Linked DNA regions of Homo sapiens: region 2 is linked to region 1. Evidence: fine-mapped expression QTL. Tissue or cell type: whole blood. Region 1 holds a variant in brackets; the other region holds the start of a gene. All regions are shown on one strand. Distances are between the middles of the regions.

Region 1 (8,687 bases):
TTATCCATTAGTTTAAGACTGAAACCAAAATCTTTCTTAAGAAAGTCTCTCTAGAATCCCATAATCAGAAGTGATTTCTCTCAAAAGTCCAATACAACTGTATATTATATTCCCTCCTTCCTTTATTCATTCATAATTAATATTTATTGAAACCTATTTTGTGTCACTGTGCTAGGTTTCATTTATAGTCTAATGGAAGGCATTAATCAAATAACATATTCCTTATGTATAGACCATGACCTATCTCACATTATACTGCTACTGTTCATCTTGCTTACTTCCCCAAGCACTGAAAACAAATGGAAAAGCTGTGTTTTATCGTGTGCCTACCCTTCTGACACCTAGTAATGTGCCTTGCATTGTTAGTTAAATGTTCAGCAGCAATATTCGATGAATATTTCATTTATTGCCTTACTCTTCACCCCGGGGGAAGCAATTCAGAGGACATATGTTACCATTAACTGCTGTAGAAAAATTCATTTGAAATTGAAACACGCATTTAAAAATATATACATGTGTCTTCATAACTGGAGTGTTGAGGATGGAGAAGAACCTATAAGATGAAAATCCAGCGTGTTTGCCTTATTAGAAATGCAAATGTCTACTAAAATATGATTATGAGAATATGAGGTGTCCAGTGTCCAGACGTGCAAAAATCACACAGATAAAAGCAAATCTCTCTCTAATCTTTCTTTGCTTTGTGTAATTAAAAGACAGAAAGCAAACTACGCTTTCTAAATAAATGATATTCAGTCAGTTTTAGAAATGTTTGCATCCTGCTACAATCACCGCTATAATAGGTTTTCTAGGCTCTGCAGCCTTTTCCTTGTTTCCTGCTTATTCAGGCTTCAGATCTGTGGAGTGGATCATAATTAGGAATCTACTGGTTCTTTCCCCAACTCTGATTCAATTAGCCATATGTTACAGGCAGCAAACACAGTGGCTGTCAAACTTTAGCAATTACCAAGCGGGGGGGGGAGGGGAGAAAGGTTTGTGGGGTCAAAACTATGAACTTATAAAAAGCTCTTGAAGTAAAGGCAAATCTTAATAGTGGAGCATTAATCAGAATTTTGTCTGGCCATTCATTAATCATCTCACACGGACCAGCTCTGGAAAGAGCAGCCTTTCATACACGTGGGACAGAAGTGTTGAGCTCTCAGAGCAAAGGTATCAGAAAAGGCAATGAGTAAATATGCAATTCTGTTTACATTCTTCATTCCAACAGTGAAGAAAAATCAATAGGCTTACAGAATATGGCAATTGTCCTTTGAAATGAAGGCTTTCTGAAAGGTAGTTTTTCTAGCTCATAAGGGCTGATTCCAAATAAATGATTTACTCTTTGTGGAGTGCTACATGCTTAATGAGGGCTGTTCTGGGTAAGACTGGAAGTGGAAAATCCTTGGAGGGTCACTGTTAAATTCATTTTATCGAAAAGGCAGAACATTCAAATTTAAACATTTGACATTCAAAGCTGTGTTAGTTCAGAACTTCTCTGCTACATGCTGATTTGTTAGAGAAAGGGGGTTGGAAGTCCTGGGGTAGATAACATTTAAAAAAATAGTTGAAAGAAAATGAGCATTGAAGCATGTCATTCTTGAGGAAAAACTCACATAATTAGGTAGGCTTTGTGAAGAAATCTACTGCTTTAAAAAGAAAAAACCTATTAATTTTTTGGCTAACCTACCCATTCATGCTCTTCTCCATAGAAGGAGGAACTGAGTTACAATACAGCCACACTCCATTTAAAATAACATTTATTCAATAGCAGGTCTGCCTCGTAGGCAGGCTTACCTCCTCATAGAAAAGGCCTATTATAAATCCCAGTAATTTTCCCATGAGTTCTACAAAGAGTGTTTCTTTGTGGTGGGTTTGAGTACTTTATCCACTATAATTTAAATGTCTCAAATGATGTCACTTCAAACTGTTTCCCTCAGGAGGTTGCTCTAGTCTGAAAAAATCTTCATTAAGATATTTCTCTAGTATTTAACCTGGAATTTATTTATCTGTCATCCGAAATAGGTCGTTTCCCCACCAGCTTTAACCACTGAACTTTGTTCAAGAAGCGAGTGTGCTCTAGCATAAGAAAGGTTGTTATCTTTTCTTCATAAAATAAGTGACTTTTAGCTCAACTGTATTGAGTGCATTAAAATTCCCATTTGATTTATTTTGCTCTAGGTATGTATCCATGTCTGTGGACACTAGTTGAGATTTTGGTCCAGGAAAAGCTGAGGTTTGGTTGGGGGAGGGTGAAGGTGAGTGGAGAGGATTTTAAAGTGTAAACTTTTACTCTCTCATATCAAATAGAAATTTTAAAAAAATATCGAGAGGGTAAACATTCACCTAGTGGAAAAGAAACTGAAGAAATCAATGAAGCCACGGAATATAGGTGTGACCTTTAGACTTTTTTCTTTTTGAGGTTAACAAAGTGGAAAAGCATCTTGCTAAGAAGTCAGGGTACAAATTTCTGACCCCTTTAAGAACATCTACTGTAACACTTTAGCTTTAAGTACTTCTACTTATTTATTTATTTAATGACTGCATCTTACCCTGTCACCCAGACTGGAGTGCAGTGGCACTATCAAAGCTTACTGCAGCAAACTCCTGGGCTCAAGTGATCCTCCTGCCTCAGCCTCTCCAGTAGCTCAGACTACAGGCCTGTAGTGGCCTAATAATTTATCATCACTCCTGGCTAATTAAAAAAAAACCCCTTTTTTTTTTCTTTTTGTAGAGACAGGGCCTCTCTAAGTTGCCCAGGATGGTCTTGAACTCCTGGGCTAAATGCTTCTTCCTCCTCAGCCTCCCAAGTAGCTAAGACTTCTGCATTGATTTTAATAGCTTAATTGGAATGACAAGGGAAGTGAGGGTTGCCAGAGCCAACACGTTAAATGCCTGTCTTGGGTGGCAGGCAGCTCCATGGTGAAGAGAGAACTCACTGGGCTCCATTGCCCCTTCCTGTGATGGGCTACCACACAGGATGAGGATCTTTGCTGCTAAGTCTCTCATCTGTTTCAAGTGTGTGTGCATATTGACAGTTCTCCTAAGGAAAGCAGAGCACTCCTATGGAGGTCCTAGAGGGTACATACAGCAGCTGATGATAACGTTTTTTTTTTCTACTAGGAGAGTTTTAATTAAAACTACATGTGGTTTGAGATGTTTGCTGTTCTTTCTCTTCTGAAAATCCTTACAATTCATTTTGCATAAAAAGAAAAATTCTAAAGTCTTTCATTTAAATAGTGAGATGATAGCTTCAGTAAGAATTGCTGTGTTGGGCTTTCATATATGGTTACTGAAAGCACAATGCAAAGGCCAGGACTGAATTTAACAGGCCATTTGCCGCAAGTAGCAGTATCACTGGATACCACCAACAGGTTCATGTTGAAGGTTTTTAAAAAAGCTTTTAAATTTTGCAATTAAAACATATACAGGCCAAGTGCAGTGGCTCATGCCTATAATCCCAGCACTTTTTGGGAGGCCGAGGTGGGTGGATCATTTGAGGTCAGGAGTTTGAGACCAGCCTGGCCAACACGGTGAAACCCCGCCTCTACTAAAAATACAAAAATTAGCCGGGCGTGGTGG[C/T]AGGTGCCTGTAATCCTAGCTACTTGGAAGGCTGAGGCAGGAGAATCACTTGAACCCGGGAGGCAGAGGTTGCAGTGAGCTGAGATCATGCCACTGCACTCCAGCATGGGCGACAGAGTGAGACTCCGTCTGAAAAAAAAAAAAAAACAAAACCAAAAAACCAAAAACGTATGGCCTAATAATTTATCATAAGGCATGTAACCACCACCCAGATCAAGAAATAAAATCTTCATTGCAGCGCTATTCACAATAGGAAAGACATGGACTCAACCTAAATGCCCATCAACGACAGATTGGATAAAGAAAAATGTGGTACATATACACCATGGAATACTATGCAGCCATAAAAAGAACAAGATCCACTTTGGGAGGCTGAGGCAGGCAAATCACGAGGTCAAGAGAGCGAGACCATCCTGGCCAACATAGTGAAACCCCGTCTCTACTAGAAATACAAAAATTAGCTGGGCATAGTGGTGCATGCCTGTAGTCCCAGCTACTTGGGAGGCTGAGGCAGGAGAATTGCCTGAACCTGGAAGTAAGTGGAGGTTGCAGTGGGCCGAGATCGCGCCACTGCACTCTAGCCTGGGTGACAGAGCAAGACTCCGTCTCAAAAAGGAAACAAAAAAAGAACAAGATCATGTGTTTTGTGAGAAGATGGGTGGAGCTGGAGGCTATTACCCTTAGCAAACTAACACAGAAACAGAGAACCAAATACCACATGTTCTCACTTATAAGTGGGAGCTAAATGATAAGAACTCATGAACACAAAGAAGAAAACAATAGACACTGAGGTCTACTTGAGGGAGGAGGGTGAGAGGAGGGAGAGGAGCAGAAAAGATCACTCTTGGGTACTAAGCTTAATACCTGGGTGATGAAATAATATGTACAACAAACCCTCACAACAGGTGTTTACCTATGTAACAAACCTTCACATGTACCCCCCAAATGTAAAATAAAAGTAAAACAAAATCCTGCCAGCACCCCAGAAATCCAACTTACGTTCCCTTCATCTTCCCTTGGCTGTTATTGTAATCATCTTCTGGCTTGCTTTATAGATTTATCTCTAGGCATGTGTTGCTAAACTCTATAGTTTAGTTTTGTCTGTTTTGAATTATATAGTGAGAAATTACACAATATAAATGCTTTCATGGCTGGTTTCTTTTGCTCGTCATATTTGTGAAATTTACTCAGGATTTTATTTTAACTGTAATTTTTATTTTTCAGTATTTTTTAATCTTCCATTATAGAATTACAGCTACAATTCATTTATCAATTTTACTGTTAATGGGCATTTGGGTATTTTTAGTTTGAGGCAAAAACAAATAATACCGCTAAGAACGTGCTTCTACATGGCGCTTGGTGCACATATGTACACATTTCTGTTATATCTGTTCCTAGGAGGGGAAGTGCTAGATCTACAGTGTGCTTGTATTCAATCCTTAGACACTGCCAGACTCTGCTAAGCAGATTGCATTAATTTTATATGCTAAACAATAGTGAATGCCTCAATGATTGGTATTTTCAGTCTTAAGTTTTGGCCACACTGATGGGTTTGTAGTGGTACTTTATCTACTTTTAGTTTACATTTTCCCTGAGTTTACATTAACCAATGAGTTCAGTACCTTTCACATGTTCATACATTCATTGACTATTTGGATATCATCTTTTGTGAGTTGGCTGTTCAAATCTCTTGCACATTTTTCCATTTGGTTGTTCACCTTTATTATTATTGGTTTGTAGAATTGTTTATGTATATTAAAAATATTGTCTCCTACTCATGGCTTACTTTTTACTCTCTTATTGATGTCTCAATAAACTTGATATAGTAACTTTAATTAGTCTTTCTTTTTATGATTTTGCTTTTGGTGCCCTGTTTATGAAGTCTTTTCCAATTCTATCTAGGTCATGAAGAAATTCTACTAACATCTTCTAGAAGCTTCAGAATTTTGTTTTTTCACACTTAAATTTGCAATCTCTCTGGCATTGTTTTCTCTGAATGGCATGTGATTAAGTTTAGAGTCCATTTTTTTTTTCACCTATGGGGATTTCCAATGTTGTCAGCAACATTTATTGTAAAGTTATGCTTTCCCTGCTATTCTGAAGTGCCATGTTAATTGTAATTCAGGATCTAGATATGAACAGGTCTATTTCTGGAATTTTGTTTTCATTTCATTGTTTTATTGTCTGTCCTTTAATCAATACCATATTGTGTTAATTATTTTTACATGTAGGGTGTATCAATGTCCTGTAGAGTAAGTCCTCGCATCATGTTCTTCTTCGAGAGTATCCTCACTATTCTGAGTCTATTGCATTTCCATATATTTCCATTTTGGTACCGGACTGGTCCAATTGCATTTTGATGCATTTTCATTTTAGGACCAGCTTTTCCAATTCCATGAAAACAACAACAAGACAAATACACAAACACATAAATATAAACACACACATAATATATGTAAACACACACATATAAAACAAATTTAAAAATGGGTTAAGATTTTAGCTGGGATTGTACTGACTCTATACAGCAGTTTGAAGAAAATTGACATTACATTATTGAGTCTTCAAACTCATGAACATGGTGTGTCTCTCCTTTTGTTTTAGTCTTTAAGGTCTTTCAATGTTTCATAGTTTTCTGTATAGAGGTCTTATATGTCTTTTGTTAGATTTAATATTTAATAATTTAACATTTTTGGTTTATAATAAATAGTATCATTTAAAAATTTTATTTTCTGTTTATTGTTGCCATAAAGTAATATATTTAGGAGCCTCTGGAGCTTCTAGAACATAACAGGAGAATATTCTTCCTGACCTGAAGTAGGAAAAGGAATGCATTTATTTACTTGTGTAGCAATTTTGATGAACTGTCTTGTTAATGCTAATTTTCTGTCATTCTTTTGACACTTCTATGAACACATGCACATATCATCTGGGTTTTATTTCTTATTTCTTTCTTTCCAGTCTTTCCCCCCATTTCCCATTCCTCATTTTCTTTCCCTTTTGTTTTTCTGTATTAGCTGGGCTCCCTTTCTGTACTGGTGGCTACCTTCTTCCAATGTTGAAAGGAAGTGGTAACGACAGACATACCCATCTTTTTCCAGATCTCAGTAGAAAGCTTACACCGTTTCACCGCTAAGAATAATGCTTGCTGTATCTTTCCTTTTCGTACTCTTTAACAAAATAAGAAGATTACCTTGTATTCCTAGTTTGATGAGAATTTTTATAATGAATAGATTTTGAATTTTATCACAGTATTTTCTTTATTTATTTAAATGATCATATGAATTTTCTCTTTTCCACTAATGTGATAAATTGAACTGACTGATTTTTAAATCTTTGACCAATCTTGCACTCTTGGAATGAACTCAGATTTTTATATTTTGCTAAATTTGATGTTAGAATTTTGTTTAGGATTTTTTCAATTTGTGCTCTGAGTGATACTGACTCAGACTTTTTCTTTCTTGAAGCATTTTTGTCATGGTTTGATATCAACATTAACATAATAACTTCAAAAATAAAGAGAAATAGTGCCTCATTTGCTGTTCTCTAGAAAAGTCTGTTTAAACGTTTGGTAGCATTTACCAGCAAACCATCTGGGCCTGTCATTTTCTCTGTGGGAAGGAATTAAATTGAGAATCCAGTATCTTTAACAGGCCATTTAGACTTTTTATTCTTGTCTTAGTTTTGGTAGCTTGTGCTTTGTCCATGTCATCTAAATTTTATTTTATTTATTTATTTTTGAGACAGAGTCTCACTCTGTTGCCCAGGCTGGAGTGCAGTGGCATGATCTCAGCTCATGGAAACCTCTGTCCCCTGGGTTCAAGCGATTCTTGTGCCTCAGCCTCCCAACTAACTGGGATTACAGGTGTGCACCACCATGCCCAGCTAATTTTTGTATTTTTAGTAGAGACGGGGTTTTGCCAGGTTGCCCAGGCTGGTTTCAAACTCCTGGCCTCAAGTGATCTGCCCGCTTTGGCCTTCCAAAGTGCTGGATTTCGGGCTTTAGCCACTGTGCCCAGCCATGTCATCTAAATTTTAAAATTTATTGACATGAAATTTTAAAAATAATATATTCTTTTTTCTTTTGTAGAGATGAGTCTCACTATGCTGCCCAGGCTGGTCTTGAACTCTTGTGTTGAAGTAATCCTCCTGCCTTGGCCTCCCAAAGTGCTGGGATTACAGGCATGAGCCACTGTGTCCGGCCTGTAATATCTTGTTATGATCATTTTAATGTCTGTATGATCTAAAGCAGGAGTGGGCAAACTATAGTTCTCAGGTCAACCTGGCCCATGGCCTGTTTTTGTTTGGGCCAGTGAGCTAAGAACGGTTTTTATATTTTGAAAGAGTTATTAAAAACAGAACAACAACAACCAAAACACAAGGATATGTGACAGAACCCAGTTTCTGCTCTTAGCTTTAATATTTCCTTAGTTTACATTTGTGGTTTAATTTCCTTTTCTTTTTTTAGCTTCTTGAGAACCCAGTTTTAATAAATACTATATTCTGTGTGTAGCAGAAAAGAACAAGTTTGCTATGCTGTTATTCAAATCTTCTACATCCTTACTGATTTTTTGTCTTTTTATTCTATTGGTTAGTAAGAGTTGTGTTAAAAATCTGCCTCTTTTATTGTGGATTCACAAATTTCTTTTTATAGTCCTGAAATGAACTACTCTTTTTGAGGTCATAGCATTAGACACATATAAATTTAGAGTTGTTACAACTTCCTGATGAATAAAATCTTTTATCATTATTAATTGGGATGGAAGGGAAGTACATTTTAAGCAGTAGCAACATTCTAACAAAGATAAAAGAAAATGTAAAACATATTTTGGAAGAGGAAATAATACGATTTAATTATATTGAGAGGTCTACTTTGGGGAATAGAAAAAAGGAGACTATGAAAATAGAGGGAGGGCTTTATTTTGGTTTGCTTCAAGCATCACAGTGAGAAGTTTGTATCTAAGCCAACCATACATTTTTGAATCCAGTTTTTTTTCACCTAAATTCAAGTTTGTCACAATCGTAAGCAATAACTTTGGCTTAAGGCTTTATACATCTTTACATATCTTTACCTAAGATAAGTGATCTTAACCATTTATTGTTAAACATCC
Region 2 (8,687 bases), 66 kb before region 1:
TCAAATAAACATTCATCCAAGAATGCACGCAAAGAAATTAAAATGTTATTGAAAATTGAAATGTTACCTCTGTTTTTATAAGATGAGCTAGGCTTAATGTACAGTAGTCAAAATTACATTGAATAAATGACCTGAAATGAAAAAACTGTTTTTCTTCACATATACCATACTACTAGCTTGACAAGAAAAGAAGTATCCCTTTTCGTGGCAATATCAACTCACTTTAATTTAGGATGGAAATAACCAATAGAAAAACATTTGATGACTGCATTTCACTCAAGTATTTTTTTAGGCCATCTAATAATGTATAGTATAATCTCCAAAGAAAAGATTTCACCCAAAAATATTCACAGAAAGACCATACCATGAAACTATTCCATTCCTGTATCTTCTGCTTTCTCTATTTCTACATCCAAAAGCAAGCATTCCTAATACTTATAAAAAAGCCCTTGACGTTTTATCTAAGTATCTTTCTAAAAGATTAAAGAACCATACAGGTAATTATAATTTACTGGAAGTATAACATGATCTTAAAAATGTCACAGTAAAAATAACTTTCTAGGCTCAATGAAATAAAGGTAACTTTAGCTAGGTATCTGTTATTGTTTATAAACTACTGAAGTCTTAACCCAGTTTGGCATTTCAGCATTCTCTTTCATGTCTCAGTTTATTAAAATTAAAGAACAAATAAGGTTAAACAATAAAAACAAACTCTTAGGTAAATAGTTTCTAATATAAAAATAAAAAGACAAAACCACCCATATTTTTCGTTGGGGGATTAAAATTTTTCCTACATGATGTTGACCTCCAGCTTTGTATTTGTCTCCAAGTAGTACTAAGTTATTAAGTTTGAACATAAATTAGTTTAATATTCTAAAGAACTGGTTTTAAGATTGGGACTGACTGGTCATCTTTTCTCTCAAGCTCTACTAAAAGCCTTTTTTAAACAAACATATCAATAAAACATCTTGACTTAGACATATTTAAATAAACTGAGGCAAAAATACAAACAATGCTCCAATATATGCTCATGAAATATTCAGTAACTATTTCTATTTTTACTCCCTGACCGTCATTGTTTATCAAATTGTGCCTAGCTTTACATCACTTTTGCTACCTATAAACAGCCCTGGTCAAAATATACATGAACAAGGTTCACTAAAAAAAAAAAAAAAAAAAAGATGTTCACGTAACTCAGATTTTTTTTTGTTTGTTATCTCTCAGCACAGATAATCAAAGATCAAAACTTTAAGTACCACATAGCTAATGACCAATAATCCTCTATTACCCAGGAATATACACAGAAGCACCAAAAAAAAAAAAAAAAAAAGGTAATTGTGGTCATATTCTGATGAAGCTGGACGATTCCAAAAGAAAAAAACGAAGATACAAAATTATTTTTAAAAGTGGCCATAAATGATCTAATTTCCAAATCAATGAATCGATGAATATTCCAGGCAAATAACATTAGAAAAGTAAGAGTGCCATTTTCTTCTCTCAAAATTCTGACACTATACAAAATAAAGAATACAGTCACCATTATATGATAAACTTCAGAAAATCATGATCAAGACTGGACATACAACTATTCAGCTGAGGAGTAATCACAGCATTCTAATTACGAAGGAAAAAAATGAAAGTCAAAAAACTCACTTTATATAGTATCTTGCACCTTCAAAAGTATATGCTTCTTCCCAGCCAGTAGGCAAATCTAAAACAATACATATATTACAATTAGTATTACTTCAATGATAGCAAAATAAGTCTCAATCCATTTTAATTATCCATTTTCATTTATTAGCTGTTTTAATTAAGTAGATTACTAACAAAAAAAGTGTTGAGCTGGCAATACAACAGATATCATTTTTTGAAAAACAGCAATTCAAATTTAGAGCCACCAGAAAAGTAACCATAATATTAGAGATTATCTGACCTGAGCACACACTGTAATATATTAGGGTGGAGAGGAACTATGTTCTGGCACCCAAGAAAGCAAAGGGAAGCCTTCTCATCCCAGGTGGAACACTCATGAATGACTAGCAAAAAAAAAAGCTGGGTATAACAGGCAACGCCTGCCTCTTCTTGGGTATATTGTGTCTATTTAAGACCGTATTTTTCAGCTACACAAATGAATCCATCTAGGAAGTGTCACCAAAAAGAAGGCAGAACTTCCTAACTACTTAATTAATGGAAAAGAAATGACACCGAATACTTCCGTGTGTGTTTCTAAAAATTTGACTAAGAGACGTGAAGTTTCAAGTAGTAAAGTTGGGGATGATTCAGGTGAACAATGGTCATTATGTGCTACATATTATTATTAATGACAAGTTGTTTGGATTTCATCAAAATGCCTCTTGGAAGTAAAAACAACCGATGTGTGTACAAAACCAGAGTCCAAGCAAAGTAAAACCAAACCAGAAAAAAAAAAAAGTGAAATCACATAAAAGAATAAAATTTTTCTGTGGCGTGAATGTTACCAAATCTGTGGGGTTAACTAGGACACTTATTTATATCACTCATAATTCCATAGGATAATTAGTCTAAATAATTTAAATGTCATATCGTCTTTCATGAAATAAATCTATCATTATCCATAAAAGCAAAGAGGCCATCAAAGTTGGAATATGCGTGTAAAACACCAGAAAGGTATATTGAAGCAAAAGCCTGCACCGGGGAATTGAGAAACATGATAGTGTATTAGTCAGAAATGCCTTAAAAATGTAAGCTCATCATGCTTGCTACACCAGCCTTTCCTTTCTTCCTCCACCTTTTTGCAAATTTGGAGACATTAGTCACTTCAGTGAACTCCAGCATTTCACAGAGAGGCAGGTTTGTTCAATATCCTGGCAACTTTAACAGATTCACGGAATGTCAGAGTCCGAGAGAATGTACCCCAGAGGCCAGCTCTGAGGACTGCTGAAACTGGCCTCGCCTTCGACCCAAACTGCTCTCAAGCCTTTCCAATCACCAGGACTAGAGGCAGGCCAGTAAGAGAACACATGTTACATTTCAAAGACAAACAAGTCACGAATGTAAACAAAGAATGATAAAAGAAACCCAGACCAGTACAGAAACTACGAGGAGCCTTTTCCAGCTCCACTCACACTTAGCATTCAAACAAGCTCCCAAAGCCACCCGAGAGAGCCGCTTCCCCACGGACTCCCTCCAAACAGGGCCCGGGTGCCCCCATACGGGACACCCCCTCGCACGCCCACCGCCTCCTGGCAGTCTGTGCAACCTCCGTGCGGCTGGCGGGGACTTTAGATCCGGATCGCCAGCAACTGAGGCTGCGAACGCCTCCTCCGGCTCCGGCTGCTCCTCCCGTGGCAGGAGGGAACGCGCCAAGCGTTTCCCGAGCCGTTCCCTGTCACAGAGAGGATCGCAGCACCCCCGAACTCCTCTCCTCCTCCTCCTCCTCCTTCATCAGCCACCTACCCACAAGTCCCACCTAGGAGGAGGAAGCTGCACGGCAGGAGGCAGCGCTCCTGGGAGGAGGGGGAGGATGTGGTTACGTTATCCCGGCGGGCGATCGGGGTCCGGGGCTGCAGGGAGGGGAGTGGGTAAGGACTGCCTGAAGATTGCTGGGGGGCAAGACGGCAGCTGGGGGTCACCGGGGAGTGAGTAGCGGCCGCGGAGGAAAAACTCAGGACTCCAGGTTTCAGGGAGGGGAGCGTCGCCACTCTAGGGTCGCGAGGGTCGTCTAGGCTGGGATGGGGGGAGAAGGCGCAGGAAGAGGGCGCCGTCTCCAAGTGCTGATGAAAGGCTGAGGAGAAAGAGGCGCCCCGAGACTGGAGAGAACTCCCGGCGGCGGAGTCCCCGTGGCCCCTCTACCTGCGGCCGCTCCCGCCCGGCCTCCGCCCCGCCTCGCCGCCTCCCGGGGCCCGCGGCGCGGGGCAGGTTGCGGGGAGCCGGGCGGCCCGGGCTCTGCCGCCTCCTCCAGGCGGAGCCCAACTCCGTTTGGGCCCGGCGTTACCTGTGCTCTGCCGCCGGTGTCCGGTGACCACCGCCTCGCCGGTGACGGGGTGCAGCCAGGTGGTGCTCTTGGCCTCCTCGCTGCAGGGGTGAGAGAAGGGGCAGACACGGAGCGTGAGAGGGGACGCGGGGGCGAGCCGAGGGGCTGCAGGAGCACAGACCCGGGCTCTCCCCCGTGTCGCCAGCCGCCCGCCTCCTGCCCTCCCGCCCCCGCGGGCCCCCGTGCCGTCCCCGGCTCTTTACTTGATGAAGAAGACTCGGCCGCCCCTGGTGATCCCGTAAGTCCAGGACCGGGGCAGGGAGATCCACTCCAGGTTCAGATCCGCCGCCATGTCTGATCCCTAGCCGCCGCCGCCGCCTTCTCCTGCTGCCGCCGCGGCTGCCGAGGGAGGAGGGAACGAGCGAGCGAAGGGAGCGCGGAGCGAGCGCGCCTCCCCGGCCCGGCGCGCCCCCGCGCGCGCCCTACCCCCTCGGGCGGTGCCCGCCCCGCCGCCCCGGCAGGGTCCGGCCCCCGTCGCCGCCCCTCCGCATCCCGGCGGCCGCCGGCCGGCCGCCCCGCCGCGCGCTCGGGGGATGGGCAAGCGGCGCCGCGCCCCAGACCCCTCCCTCGGGCCCCTGCGGCGCGCCCGCCCCCTCCGCCGCGCGAAGGTTCCGGGATCGATTAAAAAAAAAAAAAAAAAAAAAAAAAAACGCGTCCTGCCCCCAGGGCTTTGCCCGAAGGCTTCCCATCCCAGGGCGCGATCAAAGGGAGCCTAATAATGCCCAAGCCCCTGATTTCTCTCTTTCAAACAACAAAAACACAGCGTCTGAGCTTTGTTTTATAAGAGCTGTTGGAGAGCCAACAGATTTTTCCAATATATTTATCGTTTTAAAATGGAAAGCTGTTTTTATTAAAGCACACGAAAGGCCTTTCCTGTTTGTTTGTTGTGTGCCAGATATCAAAGGTTGGACGTGATACGTGGCCCCATGAAATATGAGTGGATTTAGACTTGACAAAACAAGTTTTTTCTCTTCCTAGGCCCCTTAGGTCATATCTTATAAAATAAAAACTCGTCTTTTTCTGGTACTTGTTTTTAAAGATTCACTTAACATCAGTGTGGATTTTTACTTGCCCTGTCTCCAATAGATTACAATAATAGCTTATTTTATGGAGTCCTTGTGACGGTGTACATTTTTAAATCTTCACAACAACTATATATATATGTGTGTATATATATATATGTGTGTGTGTGTGTGTATATATACACACACACACACAATCTATAAAAAATCCCCATTTTACAGATAGGAAAAATGAAGTTTAAAAACACAGTAGTTTGCCCAGTCATAGTAATAACTGCCAAAGCCTGGATTCAAACTGGCTGTAGGATTTCAAAAGTATATTTGTATAACCTCCTTGCTGTACAAGCCCACTTTGTTTTACTGCGATTCACTTTATTGCTGTTTGCAGATCTTTCACATCTTACAAATTGAAGGTTTGTGGCAACTCTGCATTAAGCAAGTCCTAGCACCGTTTTTCAACAGCATTTGCTCACTACATGTCTCTGTGGCACATTTTGGTAATTCTTGCAATCTTTCAAACTTTTTCATTATTGTACCTGTTATAGTGATCTGTAATCAGTGATCTTTGATGTTACTGTTGAAATTGTTTTGAGGGCACCATGAACTGAGCCCATGTAAGACAGGGACTTAATAAATGTGTGTGTTCTGACTGCTCCACCAACCAGCTGTTCCTCTGTCTCTCTGCTTCATCTTGGGCCTCCATATTCCCTGAAATGAAACACTAATAATTGTCTAATAATAATGGCCTAATATTGAAATTAGGCCAACCAGTAACCCTACAATGCCCTTTAAGTGACCAAGTGAAAGGAAGAGTTGCATGTCCCTTACTTTAAATGAAAAGCTAGAAACGATTAAGCTCAGATGTATCAACAGCCAAGAGAGGCCAAAAGCTCGGCCTTGTGTCAAATAATTAGACAAGTTGGGAATGCAAAGGAAATGTTCTTGAAGGAAATTGAAAATGCTACTCTGGTGAAAACATGAATTATAAGAAAACAAAACAGCCTCATTGCAGATAGGGAGAAAATTTTAGTGGTCTGGGGAGAAGATCAACCTAGCTACAACATTCCCTTTAGCCAAAGCCTAATCCAGAGCAAGGCTCTAACTCTCTTCAATCTTATGAAGGTTGAGAGAGCTGAGGAAGCTGCAGAAGAAAAGGTTGAAGCTATCAGGGATTTAAGGAAAAACACCATCTCCGTAACATAATAGTGCAAGATGAAGCAGCAAATGATGTAGAAGCTGCAGCAAGTTATCCAGAAAATCTAGTCAAGATCATTGAAGGTGGATACACTAAACATATTTTCAATGTAGACAAAACAGCCTACTATTGAAAGAAGATGCCATCTAGGACTTTCACTGCTAGAGAGGAAAAGTCAATGCCTGGCTTCAAAGCTTCAAAGGGCAGGCTGACTTTTTTGTTAGGAGATAATGCAGCTGGTGATTTTAGGTTGAAGCCAATTCTCATTGACCATTCCAAAAATTCTAAGACCCTTAAAAATTATGCTAAATATACTCTTCCTGTGCTCTATAAATGGAACAACAAAGCCTAGATGACAGCACATCTGTCATGGCTGACTGAACATTTTAAGTCTGCTGTTGAGACCTACTGCTCAAAAAAAAAAAAAAAAAAAGAAAAGAAAAAGTGATTCCTTTCAAAATATTTCTGTTCATTGACAGTGTACCTGTTTACCCAAGAGTTCTCCTGGAGACATACAAGAGATTAGTGTTGTTTTCATGTTGGCTAACCCAACATGCATTCCACAGTTCATGGATCAAGGAGTCATTGTGACTTTCAAGTCTTATTATGTAGAAAGTACATTTCATAAGGCTATAGCTGCCAGAGATAGGGGGTCCTTGGATGGATCTGGAAAAAGTAAATTGAAAAAATTCATAATTCTAGATGCCATCAAGGACATTTGTGACTTAAGGAAGGAAGCCAAAAGATCAACATTATCAAGAGTTTGGAAGAAGTTGATTCCAACCCTCATGGATGAGTTTGAGGGGTTCAAGACTTCAGTGGAGGCAGTAACTAGAAATATGGAAATAGCAAGAGAACTAGAATTAGAGATAGAGCCTGAAGATGGGGCTGAAATGCCACAATCTCATGGTAAAATTTGAAGGGATGAGGAGTTGCTTCTTATGGATGAGCAAAGAAAGTGATTTCTTGAGAGGGAATCTATTCCTGGTGAAGATACTGTAAATATTGTTGAAATGACAACAAATAGTTTAGAATATAATATAAACTTAGTTGATAAAGTAGTGGCAGGGTTTGAAAGGATAGATTCCAATTTTGAAAGAAATTATACTGTGTGTAAAATGCTGTCAAACAGTATCACATGCTACAGAGAAATCCTTCATGGAAGGAAGGGTCAATCGATGCAGCAAACTTCTCTATTGTCTTTAAGAAACTGCAACAACTGCTCTTACCTGCATCAACACTAGCCTGACTGGTCAGCAGCCTTCAACAACATTGAGGCAAGATCCACCAGCGAAAAGATTAAGACTTGCTGGAGACTCAGATGATCCATTAGCATTTTTTAACCATTAAAGTTTTTTTTTTGTTGTTGTTGTTGTTTTTGAGATGGAGTCTCACTTGGTTGCCCAGGCTGGAGTGCAGTGGCACAATTTCAGCTCACTGCAACCTCCATCTCCCAGGCTCAAGCAATTTTCCTGTCTCAGCCTGCCTAGTAGCTGGGACTACAGGTGCGCATCACCATGCCCAGCTAATTTTTGTATTTTTATTAGAGACAGGGTTTCACCATGTTGGCCAGACTGATCTGGAACTCCTGACCTCAGGTGATCCACCTGCCTTGGCCTCTCAAAGTGCTAGGATTACAGGCGTGAGCCACCGCGCCTGGCTAAAGTATTTTTTAAATTAAGGCATGTACGTTTTTTAGCCATAATGCTATTGCACACTTAATGGATTACAGTATAATAAATATAACTAATATATGCACTAGGAACCAAAAAAATGGTGTGACTCACTTTATTGCTATGTTCACTTTATTGTGCTGGTCTAGAAATGAACCAGCAGTGTCTCCTAGGTATGCCTGTAGTTAAAAAATAAGTCTTGTTGGCTGGGCGCGGTGGCTCACGCCTGTAATCCCAGCACTTTGGGAGGCCGAGGCGGGCGGATCACGAGGTCAGGAGATTGAGACCATACTGGCTAACATGGTGAAACCCCGTCTCCACTAAAAATACAAAAAATTCTCCGGGCATGGTGGCGGGCGCCTGTAGCCCCAGCTACTCCGGAAGCTGAAGCAGGAGAATGGCATGAACCCGGGAGGCGGAGCTTGCAGTGAGAGGAGATCGCACCACTGCACTCCAGCCTGGGCGACAGAGCTAGACTCCGTCTCAAAAAAAAAAAAAAAGAAAAAAGAAAAGAGAGTCTTGTCTCCCTTCCTCCTGCTTTTGTTCGTTGAACAAGGGCAGATTTCACTGCGACTGGGATCTTCTCCCTTAATGCCATCTAAGAGTAAACTGCCTCTTCTCATTGTCTCTGGTCTTTTACCACACTTGGAATCGCTTATGCATCTTTGCAGCAAGATGACTCATTCCAACAGGATGCACAGTACAGTAATAATAGTACTACTTAGTATTCTTATAGCACCTAATTTTGTGACCAGTTTTGGGTGTTTCTGGAGCATGATCTCATT

The links.
Region 2: PLEKHA5 starts here. The variant in region 1 is fine-mapped to the expression of PLEKHA5 in whole blood (TOPMed, PIP above 0.99).

What each region holds. Positions count from the first base shown.
Region 1 is chr12:19,059,147-19,067,833 of GRCh38, reverse strand. All of the region lies in intron 1 of LOC107984527 (a long non-coding RNA gene), which reads right to left. Among named protein-coding and RNA genes, the nearest start is that of PLEKHA5, 66 kb to the left of the region's middle. The variant C/T (reference allele first, on the strand shown) is at 3,577.
Region 2 is chr12:19,125,417-19,134,103 of GRCh38, reverse strand. It overlaps PLEKHA5 (pleckstrin homology domain containing A5), which reads right to left and starts at 4,371. Exons shown (of 32, transcript NM_001256470.2): 1 at 4,216-4,371; 2 at 3,974-4,053; 3 at 1,654-1,711. The coding sequence starts at 4,304.